Linked DNA regions of Homo sapiens. The protein of the gene in region 3 purifies or fractionates together with the protein of the main gene of each other region. This does not show direct contact. Each region holds a gene or a part of one and is shown on either strand. Other genes may lie near its edges.

Evidence for each region. The genes of interacting proteins can lie anywhere in the genome.
Region 1: the proteins of RRP8 (region 3) and CCDC137 purify together in Homo sapiens (co-immunoprecipitation; 3 studies listed by BioGRID and IntAct, with this or other methods). This does not show direct contact.
Region 2: the proteins of RRP8 (region 3) and REXO4 purify together in Homo sapiens (co-immunoprecipitation; 3 studies listed by BioGRID and IntAct, with this or other methods). This does not show direct contact.
Region 4: the proteins of RRP8 (region 3) and URB1 purify together in Homo sapiens (co-immunoprecipitation; 3 studies listed by BioGRID and IntAct, with this or other methods). This does not show direct contact.

What each region holds. Positions count from the first base shown.
Region 1 is NC_000017.11:81,669,737-81,672,067, forward strand, and holds part of CCDC137 (coiled-coil domain-containing protein 137), read left to right. Parts: intron 1-488; coding exon 489-717; intron 718-2,007; coding exon 2,008-2,090; intron 2,091-2,331.
Region 2 is NC_000009.12:133,415,211-133,419,274, forward strand, and holds the start of REXO4 (RNA exonuclease 4), read right to left. Parts: upstream 2,801-4,064; 5' UTR 2,635-2,800; coding exon 2,410-2,634; exon of another isoform or gene 452-2,409; intron 1-451.
Region 3 is NC_000011.10:6,593,577-6,598,269, reverse strand, and holds the end of RRP8 (ribosomal RNA-processing protein 8), read left to right. Parts: 3' UTR 1-3,198; downstream 3,199-4,693.
Region 4 is NC_000021.9:32,390,213-32,394,415, forward strand, and holds the start of URB1 (nucleolar pre-ribosomal-associated protein 1), read right to left. Parts: upstream 2,801-4,203; 5' UTR 2,699-2,800; coding exon 2,557-2,698; intron 1-2,556.

The DNA.
Region 1 (2,331 bases), on a different chromosome or scaffold from region 3:
GTTTTTAGTAGAGACAGGGTTTCACCGTGTTAGCCAGGATGGTCTGAATCTCCTGACCTTGTGATCTGCCCATCTTGGCCTCCCAAAGTGCTGGGATTACAGGCATGAGCCACCGCGCCCGGCAGGTCTGCCCACGTTTCTCTGTGTAGCTCCACTGGGCTTCTTTCGGCAGCTGTGCAATGGAGTCTGTGGGTGATCAGAGGAGAATTCATTCAACCAGCCACCTAGGGGTGGACATTAGGTTGTTTCTGCTTTCCTTTTTCAGCTGTGCTGCAGTGGACATCTGTGACAGGTGCCATTGGGCTGGGGGGTCACGTCCCCGGGGATGCCGGGCCGGGCATTCTACATCCTCTTCAGCTGCTGTCGTTGGGGTGCTTCCAGCCAGCCTGGTCTTCCCTTCCTGTGGCTTTGGGAGGGGAAATGAGCATGGGTCACCTGCCTGCCACTGTCTGCCTCCTGCCTCCTCTGAGGCCTCCCTTTGTCCTCAGCCCAGGTGACCTTCAGAAAGACATTGGAGAAGGAAGCAAAGGGAGAGGAGCCCGACATCGCAGTCCCCAAGTTCAAACAGAGGAAGGGGGAGTCTGACGGGGCCTATATCCACCGCATGCAGCAAGAGGCCCAGCATGTGCTGTTCCTCAGCAAGAACCAGGCCATCCGGCAGCCAGAGGTGCAGGCAGCTCCCAAGGAGAAGTCTGAGCAGAAAAAAGCAAAAAAAGCGTGAGTGGAGGCGGGAGGGGGAGGGGTCTGCCCTGGGAGCCGGAGGGAAGACATTGGGTTCCCATGACGGCCCTCTGCAGGTACCCTGTTTCATAGCCATGGGGCAGCCTGGATTCAGGGAGACCAAGCCAGAGCCCTGGGAGTTGGCGAGTCGGAGCATCCAGCTGGGAGCCAGTGAGGGTGTGGCCTCCAGGAGGCTGCGGAACCTGGGAACTCTGCGGAGACCTCGCTTGGTCCTTGCTTTCACAGGAAAAGCACCAGAAAGCCCTAGCCCTGTGGGAATCAGCCCTGAGGGGGTCGGTCTGAGGGTGACGTGCCCAGGGGTTCTGTTTCCATTAGAACAGAATGTCTCTCGTCCAAGAGACTACACCTTCCTAATTCTCTAAAAGCTTTGGCCGAGTACAGTGGCTCACGCCTGTAATCCCAGCACTTTGGGAGGCTGAGGCAGGTGGATCACGAGGTCAGGAGATCGAGACCATCCTAGCCAACACGGTGAAACCTTGTCTCTAATAAAATACAAAAAAAAAAATTAGCCGGGCGTGGTGGTGCATGCCTGTAATTCCAGATACTTGGGAGCCTGAGGCAGTGGAATCGCTTGAATCCGGGAGGCAGAGGTTGCAGTGAGCTGAGATCGTGCCGCTGCACTCCAGCCTGGTGACAGAGCGAGACTCCATCTCAAAAAAAAGAAAAAAAAAAAAAAGCTTTGAAGGTTTGAGAGGTTGCTTTCAGCTCTGTAGATTCCCTGTTTCTGGATTGTTGTATTACTTATAGTTACCTTAGCCAGTGAAAGTTCATCACAGAGAACGTGGCCCAGATACAGCCTGGCGCCACGGTGATCTCCAGAGCTGTCGCTGAAGGTGAAGCTTCCAGATTCACATTGAGGGAGACGTGATATACAATGCTTGTTAGGCCCTTTAGACACAGCAGCACCGGATGGGCTGGATGAGTCTCTGTTGGGTGGTCTTTGGCAGCCTTCCCAGCCTTCGTGCACAAGGTGCCAGTAGCCCTTGCCCACGTGTCTGCACACATTGTCAGATGTTCCCTGGCAGGTAGCTGTCCCCAGCTGAGAACCACTGGGGGACCTGTGAGGGGCCTGTTGGGGTCAGAGCCTTCTTTGGTGGGCAGCTGTGGGTTTTGGGGTGGTAAGGGGAGCGGGGACTTGGAGGCAGCCACCTGTTCTTGGGTCCCTGCTCTGCCACAGGGGATCCCTTGTGGGTGGGGCGGCCTCTGCCTCCTCCCTGGGTGGAAAGAGAATTTAGGAATCTGAGTGACATGTGCTTTCTTCCCCAGGTTCCAGAAGCGGCGACTAGATAAAGTCCGACGGAAAAAGGAGGAAAAGGCGGCAGACAGGCTGGAGCAGGAGTTGCTCCGAGGTAGCTCTTCCCAAAGCGATGGTGTCAGCAGTGGTCCGGGTGGGGCCTGGGCGCAGGCCTTCTGTTCCCCACCAGCCCTGGCTGCACTGGGCACCTGTGGTTTCCCCTGGGGTCCACAGCCATTAGACCACTGGATGAGTTGGTGTTCTGTCCCAGCCCTATGGGAGGGAGGTGGGCGGGTGGTGGCTCTGGGTGTCAGGGGTGCAGTGGCTGTGGGCAGCAGTCCTCAGTTGTATTCTGC
Region 2 (4,064 bases), on a different chromosome or scaffold from region 3:
GCTGTTTCTTTGCTTATCTTATTATAATGCATTTTGCACCTGCTCCTTCATGCATACAAAATGTCAAACTCATTCTACACCTTGGGTACCTGTTGAGTGGCTGGACACCACAGACCACTTCCCTTTTCAGCTTATCTAGAAAGAATTTTGGAGTTAACTTCCCTCACAGCTTGGGCCAACATCCTGCTACACAGAAATCGCTTTTTTTTTTTTTACAAGATTCCCTGGTTTGCTACTGCTGTGAAGATCTCAGGAAGGTGGGGGGTGTCATAAATGAAAAGAAAAGCTTCTGTCAAACTGGAGTGGCTGAAGAACTGCTAGCAGCCACACACCTTGGCTGTCACCCAAGCAGAGGCTCCTGTAGTCTTAGAGCCCAGCTTCCTCCCTGTGTTCAAATCCCCAGTGGGAGTGGGCGCCACCACAGTGCGATGATGAGGCGGGTGCTACTTACCTGTTCTGTGATAGGTAAAGAACTGAAGGGCTGACTTTCTTGGATGAATTAGAAAACACTCCAAAGTTTCCCTATAGCACACATCCCTTCCATTCACTTATTTTGCTTTTCTTTCTTGGGAGAAGGAAGAAGAGTTGGTGTTCAAGAAATCCCACAGAACCCTGGGGCTGCCCACGGGAATTTGACTGGTCCTGTGTGTTAAGACAGGAATGTCTGCACTGAGATACTGTGCAGAGTATTAGGAGGTTCAAGAAGCGCTCGGGGAGGCTGAGGTGGGAGGATTGCTTGAGGTCAGGAGTTGAAGACCAGCCTGGGCAACAAAGTGAAACCCCATCTGTATTAGTTCATTGTGCACTGCTATAAAGGAATACCTGTGTTTGGTAATTTATAAAGAAAAAACGTTTATGTAGCTCATGGTTTTGCAGGTTGTACAAGAAGCATGGTGCCAGCATCTGCTTCTGGTGAGGCCGAAGGAAGCTTCCCATCATGGTGTAAGGTGAAGGGGGAGCAGGTGTGTTGCGTGGTGAGAGAGCAAGCAAAAAAGGTGCTAGGCTCTTTTTAAACAACCAGCTCTCAAATGAACCAGCAGAGTGAGAACTTACTCGTTACTGAGGGGAGGGCACCAAGTCATTCATGAGGGATCTACCCCCATGACCCAATACCTCCTATGGGCCCCATCTCCACCACTGGGGATCACATTTCTTTTTTAAAAAAACTACTTTTTACTTTTATTTAGAGATGGAATCTCACCATGTTGCCCAGGCTGGACTTGAACTCCTGAGCTCAAGTGATCCTCCTGCCTGGGCCTCCCAAAGTGCTGGGATTACACGTGTGGGCTACTCGGGAGGCTGAGGCAGGAGAATCACTGGAGCCCAGGCAGCAGTGAGCTATGATCCTAACAGGAGGTAGCTCCAAGGGAGCTCCAAGGGATGTGGTAAGAATGTATGAGTGACGCACGTGGAAGAGTGTCTAGGAGAGAGCAGGCAACCTCTACAGAAGTGCAGGTCACTAGGGAGACAGCAGGTACAACACAGCCTTAAAAGCATGGACTCCAGAGTCAGCCACCTGGTTCCCAGCCGCAATCTTAGATGATCTATTTAAACTTTTCCAGCCTATTTCCTCATCTGTACAATAGCGATGATGGAAGTGTCCACCTCACAGTCTTATTGTGGGGATTGCAACACGCATGGCATAGAGCACATGGCAGAGTGCACATTTTTAGGAGCTCAATTAGTATTTACTTCAAGACCGTAAGTGTCGCTAGAACCCCATCACATGTCTGCTATCTGCTTTTCACTTCTACACAGGAATCTTCTTTCTCCCTGTCTTGCTACACAGACCAGTGTGTTCTTTCGTTGTTGTTGTTTGAGATGGAGTCTCGCTCTGTCGCCCAGGCTGGAGTGCAGTGGCGCGATTTCGGCTTACTACTGCCTCTGCCTCCCGGGTTCAAGCGATTCTTCTGCCTCAGGCTCCCCGAGTAGCTGCGACTACCGGCGCGCGCCATCACGCCCGGCTAATATTTTTTGTACTTTTTTAGTAGACACGGGGTTTCACCATGTTGGCCGGGCTGGTCTTGAACTCTTGACCTCAGGGGATCTGCCCGCCTCGGCCTCCCAAAGTGCTGGGATCACAGGCGTGAGGCCCCGCGCCCGGCCTGGTTTCGGGATTTTAAGCTAAATTTCTCTTTGTAAAATCCATTCTAGTTAGTTCATTATGCAAAAGGTACAAGGGTTTATCTTTGCTTTTTTGTACTTGAAATAATTCTTTCATCAATTTCTTTCAAGCAAACAAGTTCGAGACCTCCCTCAACAGGCCACCTTTCTTGTGAAAAGCTGTTTACAAGATTTCGATTCAAATCTGCCTTTACAGGTCTTTTGGGGCTACCCAAGTCTTTCCCTCCGTCGCGTTCTGCGGGAATGAGCTGCGCAGCGCTCCGCCCGGGCCCCCTCAAGCCTCACCTCTTGCAGCGCCTTCCAGTTTTGAGAAAAGTCTTCTGGTGCCTTTGGAGGTCGCACCACAGCACCGGGGCCGCTTGCTGGCTTCTTGCTTACTTCCCGCGCCTTGCTTTTCCAAAACCTTTTTTTCTTCTTGTTTTTCTTCCGAGTGAGCGTCTTGACAGGACCCGGCTTAGCCACGGGGCTGCTCGGGGCGCGCTTGGAGGCGGGGACCTTCGCCTTCCCCATCCTGCTGCCGTCCAGCGCCTGGGCCGGCGGCCACCCGAGACCCCGGCCTCCCCGGGCCCGGCGCCCTGGCAGCACAAGCGCCTGCCCAGGCCAGGCCGAAACACACCCACCGCAGGGACCCCGTCCAGGAAAAGACTCCGGAAGAGACCCCGCACGCGTTGCGCATACCTCAGCACGCACGCTCCAGTCCCCGGAAGCGCTCGTCTCTCCACAACCGGCTGGAAACCGGATCCCTGCCTCTGGTTCCGCGCAGCCTGGGCGGTTCACCCGCACGGGACTTGGGCCGCCGCCTTAGCCAGCGGCATCCGGGGTCATCGACCTCGAGTTTGACTGGGGCAAGCCGAGGACCTCCCCAAGATCCGGGATGGGGATGAGAGATGCGAACGCCGGAAGGGAACTGGGGGGCCGCTGTGTGTGTAGCACCTGGTAGGGCAGCTGAGCTGGGGGCACTGGGCGGTGGGGCTAGTGAGAGCCGGGCTAGGTCGCTCGCCTGCGTCCTGGACTCTCGAGCCTTTCCCGCCTTGGGCTGCTCCTTGCTCAGCCTCACAGCGGCTCATCTTCCACGTACAGTGGGGAAACTGAGGCCCAGGCACCGGGAGGAGTTCCTGCCAGTTCACTCTGTAGCAGGACGAGCCGCAGACAAGAACCCCTCAGACACCGAATTGTAGAAGGAAAGGGCTTTATTTAGTGGGGAGCATCGGCAGACTCACGTCTCCAAAAACCGAGCTCTCTGAGTGAGCAATTCCTGTCCCTTTTAAGGGCTTACAACCCTAAGGGGGTCTGTGTGAGAGGGTCGTGATCGATTGAGCAAGCAGGGGGTACGTGACTGGGGGCTGCATGCACCGGTAATCAGAACGCAACAGAACAGGACAGGGATTTTCACAATGCTTTTCCATACAATGTCTGAAATCTATAGATAACATAACCGGTTAGGTCAAGGATTGATCTTTAACCAGGCCCAGGGCGCGGCGCCGGGCTGTCTGCCTGTGGATTTTATTTCTGCCTTTTAGTTTTTACTTCTTTATTTGGAAGCAGAAATTGGGCATAAGACAATATGAGGGGTGGTCTCCTCCCTTACTTCTGCCGCCTGGGTTCAAGCGATTCTCCTGCCTCAGCCTCCTGAGTAGCTGGGACTATAGGTGCACGCCACCACTCTCTGCCAATTTTTGTATTTTTAGTAGACCTGGGGTTTCGCCACGTTGGCCAGGCTGTCTTGAACTCCTGACCTCCAGTGATCCATCCGCCTCGGCCTCCCAAAGCGCTGGGATTACAGGTGTGAGCCACCGTGCCCGGCCGGGAGTGGGTAGATTTGATGTGCGTGTGTAACAGGCAGAGGTTGATGGAGTAACAGGGAAGTGAGGCTCCTAGGATTTTGGTCTGAGCAATTGGGTGTGGCCATTTATCATCTCAATAAATGTCTGCGGGGAGCA
Region 3 (4,693 bases):
CAGACAGGAGAACTTCATTAGGTAGAATTGGTGGGATGTTGAGGTTGGTAAGAGAGGAATCTGAAGTAAGTTCCAGGTTGCTCAACTGTGGGTAGGCTGGTGATGCCATTCAAAGTGTTGGATTTTAGGAAGTGGGACATGCGTGAAATCTGTGCTGGGGGTCTGGGAATCAGCAGCCTAGAGGTGGTAATTAAAGTCAGAATAGATGAGATATTCAGGGTAAGATAATGAGAAGAGAAAATGGCTCAGAATAGAACTGAGGAGCATGTCATGGATGGGTAAAGGAAAATGAAGCAGTGAAGGTGATGGAAGAGGAGAAGGTTCACCCAGAGATGTAGGAGTAAAACCAGGAGAGTTAATTTTTTTTTTTTTTTTTTTTTAAGACAGAGTCTTGCTCTGTGGCCCAGGCTGGAATGCGGTGGCGTGATCTCAGGTCACTGAAACCTCTGCCTGCTGGTTCAAGCACTTCTCCTGCCTCAGACTCCCGAGTAGCTGGGAATACAGGCACATGCCACCACGCCCAGCTAATTTTTGTATTTTTAGTAGTGACGGGGTTTCACCATGTTGGCCAGGCTGGTCTCGAACTCCTGACCTCGAGTGATCGGCCTGCCTCGGCCTCCCAAAGTGCTGGGATTACAGGCATGAGCCACTGTGCCCAGCCAGTGTTTTTTTTTTTTTTTTTTTTATGGGAGGATGGGCAGGTTGTTAGCTGTCGAGTGCTATTGAGATGAGAGAGAACTCAGAATGCAGTGGGGTAAGGATTGCTGAGTAATGTGGAGGGCCTGTTTGAGGTAAATGGCAGTGGTAAGAGGTTGCTCCATTATGAAAGCCCTCTTCCAGAGTTCCTGATAGGGCCCCAGAAGTTCATTTCTGATTGCTTTGATTTTTTTTCAGGGGAGCAGGAAGCCAGTTTATCATTTGAGAGTGAGAATAGGGGAGAGGAAATATCTTCCAGGCCCACAGTGCATAGAAATACCCAGTCAGGGCAAAATGATTTATCTGTTTACCTCTCCTCATCACTTGGGCCCAGAGCAATCAGCAGTGATTAGGTAGAGAGGAGCCGAGCAGAGGGAAGAGCATACCAATCACTCCTCCCTTTCCCAGTGCAGGCTCCTAGACTTAGCTGGGGCAGAGCTGGGAGAGGAAAAAGGGATTTAAAACTGCAACAGGTGCAGATTATTGTTACACAGGATTAGACATTCTAATTAATTGAGATTATGTTTGTTCCTTAAACTGATCACAGGACTATCTATTAAGAACATCACAACCTCGCTGCAGCTTTTCTCCATAGCAGGGAGAGTACCTCCCAGTGAATAAAATTTGGAGGGTGGTAAGAGACAAGAATAAAATTGGGTTTGGTTATCCGTGCCTCATGCTTGTTCAGCATCCCTTTGAGAGTTCTCCAAATAAATAGTTACTGCTTCTGCAGTTATTGGTGTGCTCCAGCTTCTGTTCCCATAATATAGTCCAGTCCTAAGGGAACACAGTTCTAAAAGAAACAACATGATCTTGGCAGAGACACCGCTCAGCTCCAAACCCAACCATTTATGTAACTGCACAAAACTCTCTACAGCTTTTCACAGAGACCAGTAATTAGAACCTTTCATCCCCTGGTCATCCTCCTTCCCAGGTGAATTCTCTGACCAGCCATCTGGTTTTAGGATACCCAACTCCTGCAGTAACTGCCTTACTGGTGGTCTAATTGCTTCTACTCGTGTCCCTAAAGCAATTAATTTTCCACACAGCCATGTGATCTTTTTAAAATGTAAATCAGCTTATGTCACTTCTCTGCTTAAAATCCTTCAATGGATTCTCACTGCCTCGAGAACAAAAGACAAACTTTTCAGGCCCCGTGTGATCTTGCCCAGGCCTCCGTCACCATCACCATCTGCATCTTAACCCACTCCTCCCCTTTCACAAAACTCCAGCCACACAGACTTGCTTTTTATTCCTCAAGCTTTCCAAACTGTTTCTACTGAGAGTCTTTGCACATGCTCCATCTTCCTTGAATACTCTTTCCCCAGTGAGCTCATTTTCATCTTCCTGAATTCATACCACTATTACCTTTGCTTCTGTGGAAGAAACTGGCCAGATGCTCACCCAAATGTCCTCTTTCTGGACACAGGTAAACTGCATTTCCCAGCTCCATGCATCTAGGCCTATGTGAGTAGTTCTCAACAGTGGAAAATGAGTGGAAGTGATGTTTCAATACTAGACCAAGGCAGTTAAAGGGTGGCTGAGCCATTTCCATTATTCTCTTCCTCCTTCCTCTTCAAGGTAACCTTGAAGCACATGTTTTGACGGTGATGGAGTCATAGCATAGAAGAAGTCTGAATACCTGAGTTACTATTTAGGGCATAATAGCTACTTGACCAAAAACATCCATATTGGACTTTGAACAAGAAAATAAACTTGATTACATTCTGCTAGTGAGTTTTGAGGGTGTTTTAGCAGTTATCATTATATACACTGGATATATCTTCTATGGTATCCTGTCCACCTTACTCTTGACCACAGTACCCTCTTTGTTTCCTTCAGGGTGTTTCAGATATTTAATTATCTTGCCAGATGCCAGTCAACACTTTCTTTTTGTCCCATGAGTTTAAAATCAGGGGAAAACATGTACTCCCAATAGGAAGTTGAGATACTCTTTTTTTTTTAAATCCGTCATTGTGACTGTGACCGGAAAAACAAATCCCACTAAAGAATGTCCTAAACAGATGTTTTTTTTTGTCATATAACCTGGAGTTAGGTGATTTGGCATTGGTTCTGGAGCTGAAGGATGTTAGGGATGAGGTCTCTGTAGTTTTCTTGTCTCATGGTCACGAAATGAAGTGTTATTGATTAAGCAGGGATGCCCTACTTAGTATTAGACTTCTTGGAAGTCTCCTTAATTGCCACAGCCCCTATCTTTTTGGCTTCGTTTCAAGGGTCCTTCTACATTGTTAATACTCTGGTATAAATACGTTCCATTATTCCCTATAACATGACTGAAACCAATCTAAAGTATTAACATTTTAAATATGTTTTTGGGCCAAGTGCAGTGGCTCTTATCTGTGATCCCAGCTACTAGGAAGGCTGAGGTGGGAGGATTGCTTGAGCCCAGGAATTTCAGGCTGTAGTGAGCTATGATTGTGCCACTGTACTCCGGCCTGGATAACTGAGATCCTGTCTCAATAAATAAATAAAACAATTATATATATGTATAATATATAATATTATATATACATATGTATGTATGATGCTTTTCATCCCCACCCTTTCCCACATCTCAGGAACCTGTCAGCAACTTATCCAGTTTAAAGCTGCTGTTCCTCTACCTCAGTGGTTTGGGAGAACATGGTCATTATTTCACTCATTCTTTACTTCCTGTCTCTTCTAGGATTGGAATGGGGGAGGGCATATTAAACGAAGAAAGTCTCAGCTTACGTGATTAAGGTACCATTGGTGTGTTCTGTGCAGACAGGCATTTAACTGTTGACTCCTTTGTGAGCTCTTGGGGTTCTCTGGAGCTCTCCATGAGGACTGGGGCACTAACTGACTTTGGTTGCCTCTTTTTGATGCACAGCCCACACTGCCCTTCAGCTCTTCAGCCCCTGACCCTGACAATGTACCCACAGCCTCCTCGTGCTAAAGTGCTTCACCCTTGTACGCAGCTCTCCTGGGAATGGTCCCAACAAACCCTCAAGACTGGTTACCTTTCATGGAACCCACAGGAAATGCATGCATATTTGTCCTGCCAAACTGGAAGTGCAGCCCAGCCAGCAGCTTGCTTTTCTCACCCTGCCTTGTCGCAGCCAGCCTGACTCTTACTTATACATCTGAGAAGTGCCAGTCTCTATAATTCACATGGCTCCAAATCCTCATAAGTGGTTCAGGTTATGTTCTCCCAAGAATCCTCCATGCCACATTCCACCCTGGTGGCCAGATGGAGATGGGTCTGTACATTTCTGAGCTTACCAAGTCTCTATCTAGAGAATATAATGCTGAATGAATGTAATGCCTCTCCCTCACATGGGAACACTAAATATCTACAAATGGTTCTATTGGAGCCCTCCTCACTCAGTTTAGAATGAAGGGAGTGCACTACTCCTTTGTCTTGCAGGGAGAAGTTATCCCTATTCCTAAAGATTCCCATCAATGAATCTTTTATTTCTAATCTCACATATAATAGAAAGTGTAGTGGTCTGTGGATCAGCTTTACTATCTTAGAATAAACTTCATGTGGATATATCTAGTACCTTTATTTGGAATGTGTTGGTTCCTATCACCTCTTGTCCTCAGTTTCGGTATGTTATCCAAAGATCTTAGATAACTGAAAAACTCTAATTTAACTTTCTCTTTTATGCAGATATTCTTATTATATGTGGTTTCCTTTTTTGTGTGTGCTTTATTTCTGTGGAGTATTGCCTACAAATCTTGTCTTCTTTTTAAAATCACTCAACTGTGTTTTTAATATTCATTCATGTTATCAGTCAGGACCCAGTCAGGAAAACAGAAACCACACTAAGTATTTCAAGAAGAGGACTTTTAATACAGAGACTTAATTACAAGTATTAGAAGACTGAAAGAGTAGAAAGAAGTTGCTGTTGTAACTAAAAAATTAGTAACTGCAGAAATCAGAATATTCCAAGGCCTGTGAAAACAAAAGGGAAGAGGTGATGTGATTACCAGAAACTAGGAGCTCAGAGAA
Region 4 (4,203 bases), on a different chromosome or scaffold from region 3:
AATGATGTAGCACCTGAATGTCATGAGGCTCTCTGTGCAAGACCATGAAATATAGATACTACATCTTTTTAACAATTAAACGTGCTCTTTCTTCTGCCAGTAAGGTTCCTGTCCCTGTCCCATCCTACAATCCTTTTGAAAAGCCACTTCCTCTGATGGCCAGTGATGATGAGCATTTTTTCATGTGTCTTTTGGCTGCATAAATGTCTTCTTTTGAGAAGTGTCTGTTCATATCCTTTGCCCACTTTTTGATGGGGTTTTTTTTTTTCTTGTAAATTTGTTTGAGTTCATTGTAGATTCTGGATATTAGCCCTTTGTCAGATGAGTAGATTGCAAAAATTTTCTCCCATTCTGTAGGTCGCCTGTTCACTCTGATGGTAGTTTCTTTTGCTGTGCACAAGCTCTTTAGTTTAATTAGATCCATCAGAGAAATGCAAATCAAAACCACAATGAGATACCATCTCACACCAATTAGAATGGCGATCATTAAAAAGTCAGGAAACAACAGGTGCTGGAGAGGATGTGGAGAAATGGGAACACTTTTACACTGTTGGTGGGACTGTAAACTAGTTCAACCATTGTGGAAGTCAGTGTGGCGATTCCTCAGGGATCTAGAACTAGAAATACCATTTGACCCAGTCATCCCATTACTGGGTATATACCCAAAGGATTATAAATCATACTGCTATCAAGACACATGCACACGTACGTTTACTGTGGCACTATTCACAATAGCAAAGACTTGGAACCAACCCAAATGTCCAACAATGATAGACTGGATTAAGACAATGTGGCACATATACACCATGGAATACTATGCAGCCATAAAAAACGATGAGTTCATGTCCTTTGTAGGGACATGGATGAAGCTGGAAACCATCATTCTCAGCAAACTATCGCAAGGACAAAAAACCAAACACCGCATGTTCTCACTCATAGGTGGGAACTGAACAATGAGAACACATGGACACAGGAAGGGGAACATCACACACCGGGGCCTGTTGTCGGGTCGGGGGGAGGGGGGAGGGACAGCATTAGGAGATATACCTAAGGTTAAATGACGAGTTAATGGGTGCAGGACACCAACATGGCACATGTATACATATGTAACAAAGGGGCACGTTGTGCACATGTACCCTAAAACTTAAAGTATGATTAAAAAAAAAAGAAAAGAAAAGCCACTTCCTCAGGGGAGCCTTCTTTGAGCTCCCAGATTAGATCCAAGGTCTGTTAAACACCCTCAGGCACCATGTACCTCTCCTTTGGAAAACTCGTGCTTGAAACTGTATGTATGTGATTTTACTGACCAATATCTGCCTGCCCCACTCGACTGTTTGTAAACCCCACAATGGCAGAGGCTTTTTGACATTTTTATTCATCACTTTATCTCTACCGTAGCAAATAATAGCCTCTAGTAATACTTAATGAATTCGGAAATAAATAACTCTATGCTAACTAAGTATCATCTTCCTAGCTGTGACTAGCAAGTACAGGTATAGGTATCAAAGTTTAAAAACAGGCCAGGTGTGGTGGCTCATACCTATACTCCCAGCCCTTTGAGAAGACAAGGTGGGAAGATTGCTTGAGACTGGGAGTTCGAGGGCAGCCTGGACAACATAGTGAGATTCCATCTCTACAAAAAGTAAAAAAAAAAAAAAAAACATAGCTGGGCATGGTGTTGTGCACCTACAATCTCAGCTACTTGGGAGGCTGAGGTGGGAGGACAGCTTAAGCCCAGAAGTTCAAGGCTGCAGTGAGCTATGATAGTGCCACTGCACTTCAGCCTGGGCAACAGAGCAAGACCCTGTCGTTTAAAAAAAAAAATGAGGACAAAAATTGGAAGTTGAAGATATTTTGGCCATTAATTTAATCGTTTATTTAACCTGGGAGAAAAACTGCCACTGTTTTATTTTAGAGCAATGCTTCCACATGGCAACACGTTCAATTGCGTTTTTCCCAAACCATGTTACTTTCCAAACGATTACAAGTAGTCGCGAAGGGTGGTCACACTTTACAAAAAGTGTAATTAAATTATAGAGTCGGCTACATCTCAGTCACTGGCCCATTCCTGGTCAACTGACAAGTAGCTGTGGTGGCTTCTAGTAGCTTGTTACAAGTCATCAAGTCAGTATGAGTGTTGGGGGATGGAAGCTATTGAAAACGGTGCTGACGGCCCAAGGAGTAGCAAACTGTCTCATGAACCGTCCTGAGCCGACTCAGTAAGGACTCAATAGAGAAGGACACTTCATTTACTTCCCTGACAACTGCAATAAAGAGGTTTTAGAGCTCGCTGAGGGATGCTGCCTGGGCAAGGGAAATAAATGTGTTGTAACATGAAACGGTCCCAATCAAGCAAGTCGGGGCCCTCTCGCTGTCGCCGACAGTCCAGAGCAAGGAAGTACACAGCAGTCCTGAACCTCAGTTTTCTGCAAACCAGAGGCTTGCCACTGAGCCTATGTGACCCGAAAGCTGCAGAAAGGAGAGGCTGTGCCCGGCACACGGAGGCCGCCTCGCCAGCCTGTGCTCCCGACCCTGCGCCTGCCGCCCCGGACTCACCTGGCCCGGGGCCCTGCGGGTCCTTCAGCTGAGCCTTGAACCGCACGCCCGTGAGCTCTTCTTTGCGGGCGCGCTTGGCTGCACCCGCGGAGGAAGCCGCGCCGTCCTGGCCGCCCGAGGCCTTCCTCTTGGGGACCCCCATGGCCGAGAGGGCGGAAGCGCGACGGAAACGACACACCTGAGGGGACCCGGCAGGAGCACTGGCACAGACAGCAGACACGCGCTTCAGGCCCACATGGCGCAGGAAGAGGCGGGGCTGGCGGAAGAGGCGGGGCTGGCGGAAGAGGCGGGGCTCGGGGAAAGGCCGGCGGAAGGGGCCGACCCGCGCGAGGCTGGGACCGGCGGAAGGGGCGTGGCCTGCAGAAGGGGCGGGGCGATAGGGATCCAGAGTCTTGGGGATCCAGAGTCTTGGGGCTCCATGTGAGTTTGCTGTACCGGTTGTCCCGGTCACGGCATGGGGCGAGCGGACACTCCACGACACCCCCCGCCCCCGGCTGCAGGGTTTGGGGTCCACCGGGGCGCATTTCTGATCCCAGTGGCTCTTCGGGTGCTCTTGGCCGGAAGAACTCCCAGACCTTTCACTCCTGGCCTGGCCGATCCACGAAGACTCGGGCCCCGGCGCGTCCAAGCAGCACAATGAGTAGTTCTTGACCCGAGGTCGCCCTGAAGGTGTCGCATGAAGAGCTTGCTTCACACACAACAGGATTCGATACTTTGCCAATTCAAGGCCCTGGTGGCTGGCCGGGAAGGTGGATTCGCCTTGGCTAGGTGCCAGGCAGGTCCGCCTGTGCGGGTGCCCCTGACTTCGACCCCTAGCTTATGTCACAGCCCGAACCAGATCGACTGGTCTGGTAGCAGCCTGTCACTCCAGACTGTCCTCCACCCCAGACTTCCGCAAACTGATGGGCTCTTTGCGCCGTGCAGGGTGGGAGGAGAAGACCAAACGAAGTAACGTCTGTAAAACCCCTTCCTGGACAGCGTAAGGCCTCCACATCTAAGTTCCTGTCATTAAAATGGAGACAGCAAAGCCGACCCTATCCAGTCCTTGGGACTGTTATGAACAGAAAATGATGCAATGTATGAAAAACTGCTTTGAGGAGAAAAACAACACAGTGTGTTTTTGGAAGATGTGATTGATTTGTAAACCGCATTAAATGCTCTGAAATAAAATGAAAGTAAAAATAAGTAAAAACAGGCTGGTACATATTTTAATACGACTTCATCGATACTTAGGTATGTGTCCAAATAAATCATGAACCAGCGCATTAGATAAGTAACTTGGTGATTACTGAAATTCTCCATCAGGTTGTCCTCTAGTCTAAGAAAATTGTGTTTCATATTCTGTAAGCAGATGTGTTTTGAACATCTGAGGATGTGGGCTTTTGTGGCCTGTTGGGGTCTCAGAGTTTCTAGTAGAAAAAGCACGTGTGTTGACGCTGAGCCTCTGTCCCGACAAGATGATTGTGCCTGTGGAGATGTCTATGTTGTAGGCAGGTCAGAGAGAGGGTGTCACCCCTAGCAGATATGAGCTAATGCAGCAATGTTAAGAGAGGGGAATATGCTCAAAAAGTCATCTGTAAAAGGCAACACTCATTAGTGAATACAGACTTAATTCTGACTGATTATCCACACTGGTCCTCTTCTTTG